2 linked regions of the Homo sapiens genome follow. The protein of the gene in region 2 interacts with the protein of the main gene of each other region in a pairwise test. Each region holds a gene or a part of one and is shown on either strand. Other genes may lie near its edges.

Region 1 (3,500 bases), on a different chromosome or scaffold from region 2:
GGACAAAGGTAGAAAACAGTAACAGATGAGGTACAGTCTCAGCCATATGTAAGATACAGCGTTGGCCACACTCTTTACCAAGTGAGATTTAAAGAGTCTCCAAAAACTCAAAAGACATGAAAAAAATCGTGCCACTTTAATGGAGAAATCATATGTGGCTATCAATTTGAATGTATGCAAATTAAGACGGGGGAATGGGGCAAAACGCCATAGCAGCTTTGTCACCATACAGACTAATTTTTTTTCTTCAATAACAGCATTCTCCTCCTAAGCCTAATGGAACTCCCTGGCCTGAATTTGCTTTCACCTCCTGTGTCCATCCCACATTTCACTGCCCAGTCAATTCTTCTTCCTGTTGGAATTCCAATCCACCCTCTCTACTTTTGATATGCACACAATGTGGTCTCATCTGATCCCACTGATCTGCTACCCACTCCTCTCTCCTAAGCCCTCCCCTGAAGTTGCCTTAGACGTCTCCTGTCACAGAACACACTGCTTTGAAATCTTGCTTGCCCAATATCCTTCTCAATAGAGAATACCCTTCAATATGCACTTTCAAATCCCATCCACTCTTCATGTTCAGTTTCAGTTTTACTTCCTGCATGAACTGTCAATGAGTACTTCAATCTATTACTTTTTCTCCTATTTGCTCCTAAAGCATGTGGAGAACTTACAGCATCTTACATTTGATGATATAGCATGTTGTTATTTTTTCCTAACGATCTCATAAATATTACATCAGATTATAAGACCCCTGAGGACAAAGAACTTGTCTTAAATGTTCAAAACTTAAGACAGCCCATATATTAATAAATACACAGTAGGTGTTAAATAAATACCTGTTCATGCATAGAATCTTAGAGGATTCAAGCAGGAAGAAACTTTAGCGATGATGTGATTTAACCCTCTCATTTCATGAATACTGCTTTGAACACTTCCAAACCAGAATTAAATAACATTGCCAATTACCATTTTAGTTTTGTTCTTAAATTAAAATAAAAATCTGAGCCAGTAATCCTATCTATCCTGAGAAAATCACAGGTACACTAAAAATATTATTTACAGTGGTATAAAACTAGAATCAACCTAAGAGTGAAACAGCTGTATTAAGTAAATTATGGCACATAGATACAAATGAATACAGCCAATTACAAAACAAAAAATAAAGCTTTAAGAGAATATGTGTAATGTCAAGAAAAAATTTCATAATGTATTAAGTAGAACCAATTGGTTAGAAAATCACAAACACAAAAAAAATTTAAAAAGAGTAGAAAAATATGTATTAAAATATTAACACGATTATCTTTCTGTATGGAATATTGGTATTGCTTTCTTGGTTTTTTAAAAATTACTGTCATGAACACATTACTTTTAATACTATTAAAAGTTATTTTTAAAATATGATAAAAATGGTTTTAGTGTTTTCCAATTAACTATTATGTTAACATTGGGATACTATAAAACTAACATGAGACAATGAATTTTCAGGTGTCTGAAAACAAAAAACTACCAAAGGCACAATACTGTATTATCTTTTGGTTTATCAGTAGGAAACGGATTTAATATTGATTTTTCTGCATACGTCTTCTTCCTCAACCAGGAAGCAAATGGAGACTTGGGAGTGCACTGATTGCGGCCGCTACCATCTTTAGAGTTTCATTCACAAACAGCGATCTATTTTTACCTCCATATTCTAAACAAGGACAAAGTCCTCACAAGAAGCCTGCAGTCCTTTAATTTAGCCTTTTGATCTACAAAGGACAAAGCACAACTGTTCTCTTTTCTGTCACTAAACTAGGTGTCACACTAATATTTACTCATGTCCACTATACAGAGAATACCATTCATGCAGGTTTTTGGGAAACAAGGCTAAGACTTAACAATTTTCCAAGGATCCAAAGCAAGTGAAATAAGTTCATAAATACTCTGCTCAATATGAGATCATGTATTCAATTAGAAATTTCAAAAGGAAAAGAAAGTAGGTAACTTGGAAAAAGGTTCAAAGAACAAAAAGAATCATATATGCCTTTACGGGTTAAGTTGTAGGAAAAGTTAATACTTGCACAATCAGTAGCAGCACTTGTAAAACCTTTACCATGAAAAGTGGTTCTTCAGATATGCGATGTCGTAAATTTATATAATTTGCATAACTGGCGAAAGTAAAGATCCCTTAATGACAGACATGAATGTACCAAGTTCTAGTGGGAAATCAAACACTAGCTTAATAGTCTGAAAACGGGTCACTTTTTATTTATTTACTTTATTTTTTTGAGATGGAGTTTCGCTCTTGTTACCCAGGCTGTAGTGCAATGGCGTGATCTTGGCTCACTCCAACCTCCGTCTCCCGGGTTCAAGCGATTCTCCTGCCTCAGCCTCCTGAGTAGCTGGGATTACAGGTGTGCGCCAACATTCCTGGATAATTTTTGTATTTTTAGTAGAGATGGGGTTTTGCCATGTTGGCCAGGCTGGTCTCAAACTCCTGACCTCAGGTGATCTGCCTGCCTCGGCCTCCCAAAGTGCTGGGATTACAAGTGTGAACCACCACACCTGGCCAAAACGTGTCACTTTAAAATGACTACAATAAAACATGCTAAGAACTATCAGCATATAAACCAGATTGGTATGGCTATACTTTGTACTGGTTATTTCTAAAGACATATAGGTTCCTGCAGCTCTAGTGGAAGCTGTTCAAGAGTTAACTCTTCTCCCCAAAACAACCTCAGGATACTAAAGTATATAGAGAACCTTCTAATTATCTCTAGATTTTCTCTAGTCCTTAGAGACAGAAGCAACTCTGCCAGTGGGTAAGCTCTGAAATCCTGTAGGGTAGAGTTCCAAACTTCTGACAGGTACTCCCTTCTACAGTTTCTTTGCTTGCACTTTCTAGGAAATAATGCCTGTTGAAAATATATACGCAAAAATAAGAAATGCTTTAATAAAAAATAGATTTTATATTAGCAACCAAAAATTCTAAAAGTAAGAGAGGTAGACAGGATTGTGGGTTTTTTTTCCCCCATCACTGTCACCTGCTTCAAGTCCTGTCCTGCAAGTCCTGCTTAACTGTTGTCCTCCGGTTTGAAATTACTTAGTGAAATCAAGCACACCACACAGGCATTACCTAACACTACTACGTAACACTCAACACCGAAAATAGAAAAGATACAATGTAAGCTCTGACTGGTAACATTATAAAGCAAATTCCAGAAATAATCTGCCAAATATCACCTTCATTTTCTGTCTGCAATCAATTGCTTACCTAGTTTTATTAAGAATTCTCGTTCCAAGTCTTGTACCTGCCTGATGGATTCTTCCAGAGAATTACAGAGTTTGATCTTTGGTCTTAGCAGTTCTAGTGTATCACTGATCATGTAATCTATATCAATAGGAAATGGATGGTCTTTTGTCCAAACCTCCAAACTTTTCTTCCACCAAACATAACGCTGATAACAAATGAAAAATAAATTTAGCTATAAGAAATTAGTAACAAAATATTTTAAAAT
Region 2 (4,085 bases):
AGAACTTCCCAGAGGATACAACATAAATGACAGAAACACAAGGGGATATTTTAAGTGGCTGATGATTTTAAATGATATATCATCTATATTAAGGGAAGGTTGTTTGTTTTTTCTTTCCAACAAATGGAAAGTTACTGTTTTAAAAGTGTTTAATGTTCAAATTCTATTTTTAGGGCCAAATCTTTTCTCTCTGAGTGGATTGACTGTAAATTCGGCTCCTGAAATCAATCTGAGACTGCAATTGGCCCCTCAAGTAAATAAACTTGTCAAATCATATCCATTTCTGTGTTGGGGATGAATGATTAATTTAATGGGCTTTTTGAAAATACCTAAATTATGTTGTAATTTTTGTAACTGTTTCAGTTAAAATAACAAAGAGAATGCATCTTTTATGAACAAGATAAACTTTATAAAATGGAAAATTCTAGCAACATAATTTTTACTGGTACTTTGAAGAAAGAAAAAAAAAGCCAATATATTATGGCAAACAAAATCCAGGCGACACTAGCTTTATTAGAATCTGGCTGATTTTATTATTAAAGGTGGTCTGAATTTGAAGAGACTGGCAAATTTAAGATTAAGATCTAAGCCAGACTTATTTCCTAAACTGTATTGGCAAAGTTGTGCCAATGTATTTTTCTCTCTGTTGTCTTCTTCTTTTAATTGGCTACCTTATTTGTAAAGAGGATTGAAGATCTTTAGAAAAGTTTCTGTCAGTCAAAAGACAAAAGTTACTTTTCCCTGCAAATATCAAAAGCACTTTACAAAACTCATTCCTTGCCCTCAAACAAAAGTTATTGCCAAGCGTCCTTTAAAATACAGTGCCTGGTTGCTTTCCCTTGCTCAGACAGACATATATTTTCCAAACTACCCAGATTCTCTGGTTCTTGACACTTTTACTAAGTCTCTATATTACTTCCCACCTAGGACAACTATCTGGCAAAAGGTCAAGGTAAATAAATACCTGATGGTAAAGACTGTGTTAACCACAAAGAACTTTCCAAAAGATAAAGAATGAAAACGGGCTTCCTTGGGAAGGAGAAGGCAATCTATTAATTGTTGAACAGGTTTCTAATTTAGAAGAGACTTTTTTTTTTTCCTTTAGTTAAATACATGAATACTTTCGCAGAGCAGGAGAAAGAGACCAGACTGGCTATTTGCTGGCAAGGGATTCCCAAGGATGAAAATTATGAAGGCCAGAATTTCCCTCCCACTCTCTCCTTCAACATCCACTTCCCAGGAAGGAGAAGGCGGAGAGGGAAGAAAGACCCTTGACGACCCTTCGCCTTCTGCATGAAGTGGGGAGGAGGGCGAACTGGGGGTCACCGAGGGCTCCTCCACGTCTTTCCCAGCCCAGGACCCCCGGATCCTTCAGCCCCAGCCCGGGCCCGCCCCGCTCACCGGTACCAGGCGAGGCCCTTGTCGTAGCTGCGGTCGAAGAAGTGGGGCTCGGCGCCCACGGCGCGCACGTCGGGGTGCACGCGCAGGAACTCCAGCAGCGCCCGCGTGCCGCCCTTCTTCACTCCGATGATGATGGCCTGCGGCAGCTGCTTGCTGCCTTCGTCCAGGAGCAGCGCCAGGGTCCCCGGCGGGGCCTCGGCCACGGTGCTTCCGGCCCCGGAGCCGCCCGGACCCCCTGACAGGCCAGGGGACTCTTCTTCCCAGGCCGCCTCCTCGCCGTCGTCGCGGGGCGCGGGCGGCCGGCGCCTCCGCCACTGCGGCAGTTGCAGGAGGCGCTTTCTCTGTGCCGCCGCCGGCCACACCGCCAGCTCCCTCGGGCCTCCGGCCAGGACGCCGCCACCAGGGGCCCCCGCCTCCTCGCCGCCGCCGGACAGCCCCACGACGGGGCCGGACAGGGTCTGGCAGCGCTCGGCCAGGCAGTAGAAGACGTAAAGGGACGTGAGCAGGGAGCAGAGCATCAGCAAGAACTTCCGGAAGATGCTGCGGGACAGCGGCTCGGCCGAGGTGGAGAGGGCACTGGCCGGGCCCGGAGGGGCCATCCTAGCCGGAGGCGACGTCGGGCAACGCGCCGGCCATGCTAGGCCTGGACCCCGACAGGTGCCAGAGCATCCCCCCGGCGGGCCAGCGCGCTGGACGGAGGCCACATCGCCGTGCGCCCCTGTGGCCGTGCGAACTGTCCCGGGAGGCAGCGGCCGGGGCTCCGCGGGGAAACGGAATCCCGGGGGCCCCGCGCAGGATCCCTGCCTCCAGTCGAGGGAGCGGGAAGGGGAACGCGGGTCCGTGCTTAAGAAACCATCGTCTTAGACTCGCCCAAGTCCTGAGCTTGGGGCAGCCTTGGCCCCTCGGTTCCCCGCAAGAGTCGCCGGAATCGGGGTCTTGGCAGCGGTGTCGAAGGCGTGCGTCTCAGCCCCGGCCCCGAGAGACTTCTCGGCGCGGATCTCCGCTCAGCGATCCTGCATCACTGGCTCGGTCCCCGTGAGGGCACGCGCGGCTGCCGGGCCTCTGCGCTCCGTGCGCTCCAGACAGTGGCGAGCGACAGTGACTTCCAGCCCCGGCTTTCTCTGGTCCCCTTGCCCGCCTGGGCGCGTTCTCTCCGCCCGAGTTCAGGTTCTCTCAGCCAAGGAGCGAGGTCCCCCCGAGTCCCTCTGCCCGAGCGGGAGACAGGAGGCCCGTGCAGAGCCGTCCACCCCTCTCCGTAGCGCCGGGTTGCTCCAAACTGCTCTTGGACCCCACCTGTGAGCCGCGTGGCTGGGCTGGGCTGGGCTGCGCGGGACCTGTCAGCGGCCCCCGCCACTCTGCTCGCAGGCGCTCACCGGCTGCCTCCTGGGCCGCCGCTGGCCGCCGCCACACGTGGGACGCCGAGGGCAGCAAACTTGCTGGTGACGTCAAAGGCCCGGGCCGGACCAGCCCCCGGACGAGCGCAGCGGGGCGCGGACCAGCGGCCAGGCGGGGCCAGACGGGCGGGGTGGGATGGAGAAAAGGTGGCGCGGGCTCCGCAGCAGCCGCCCAATGGCACTGGAGAGGGCGGGGGCGGCAGGGGCGACGCCCCTTCCCCAGTGTCCCCCATTCCTCCCCGCGGCTTCGCCCCCTTCCAGTGGATCCGGTGTCTGCGGCGGCTCCGGGGTTGCCTGAGTGACAGCTAAGGCCGGCCGGATCTCTGGGGGCCTGACTTCCACCCAAGACGCCACTAGCTTGGTGAGGGGCCCCAGAGCTCTCCACCGCAGCTCAGCCCTCCGCAGCCCTGACCCTCCCTCTCCAGGTTCCCCGCGCTCTGCTCCCCTCTTGGCACTGTTGCCCTATCCTTCCCCATCCCACTGCTTTCCATCGCCTGGAACCTACTCCTCGTCCCCTTGGAAGTTTTGTTTGCAGCAGTTCCCAGTACTGCGCTGCACGCCACGCCCCCGTTTGTCTGGAGCAAACCGAATTCCTCTGCAGCAGCTTGGACTTCTACCTACTCAACTGTCTGCTGCGGGTCTTGGAGCAAAGCTCTTTCTCGTATCAGTCTGTTTTTTGTTTGTTTGTTTTCTTTTCTTTTCTTATTTTGATTGTTTTCCCTTGGATTTGTATAAGATGATACAGTCCTCCAGGGCCTAGAAAGGAACAACCTCTTACGAAAAAAAAAAAAACCAATGCATAAATCAAAGGCAAAATTAAAATTTAAAAAAAATTCAACTCCGATTCCAAGTCCCTATGCCCAATTTTTAATGTAGTGTGTATTTCCTTAATGTTGTTTGTACTTTTGTGTGTGTGTGTGTGTGTGTGTGTGTGTGCGCGCGCGCGCATGCACGCTCGCAAAGAGGTTAAATGTCCTTTCATAAACTGCGGTTTCCTCTTTCCCTTGCCTCCCCTGACCCTATATCCTCTTCGTGCGCTCCCCGGAGAGCAGGTCAGGAAGGGATACAAACCGCCTTGCTGTCTAATGGAGGGAGGTGGCCCGTGGAAGCTGCATGAGGTGGTTTTTTGTTCTAATCCTATTTGTTCCTTATTTTTTGGCTTCCTTGCCTCCACAGGTTGCCTCACCATGTGGGCGGTAGCTTGGGAGCTTCTTACCAGCCCCTGCAAGCTGTGGAGGCAGCTTTCTGGGACCTCTGCGGGTGCTAACAAGGGCCCACCGCAGGCTCAAG

What was found.
Region 1: the proteins of HS3ST3A1 (region 2) and UPF2 interact in a two-hybrid assay, tested with the Homo sapiens proteins (one large-scale study listed by BioGRID).

What each region holds. Positions count from the first base shown.
Region 1 is NC_000010.11:11,948,810-11,952,309, forward strand, and holds part of UPF2 (regulator of nonsense transcripts 2), read right to left. Parts: intron 3,441-3,500; coding exon 3,257-3,440; intron 1-3,256. UniProt on the Homo sapiens protein: Involved in nonsense-mediated decay (NMD) of mRNAs containing premature stop codons by associating with the nuclear exon junction complex (EJC).
Region 2 is NC_000017.11:13,599,130-13,603,214, forward strand, and holds the start of HS3ST3A1 (heparan sulfate glucosamine 3-O-sulfotransferase 3A1), read right to left. Parts: upstream 2,801-4,085; 5' UTR 2,001-2,800; coding exon 1,402-2,000; intron 1-1,401. UniProt on the Homo sapiens protein: Sulfotransferase that utilizes 3'-phospho-5'-adenylyl sulfate (PAPS) to catalyze the transfer of a sulfo group to an N-unsubstituted glucosamine linked to a 2-O-sulfo iduronic acid unit on heparan sulfate.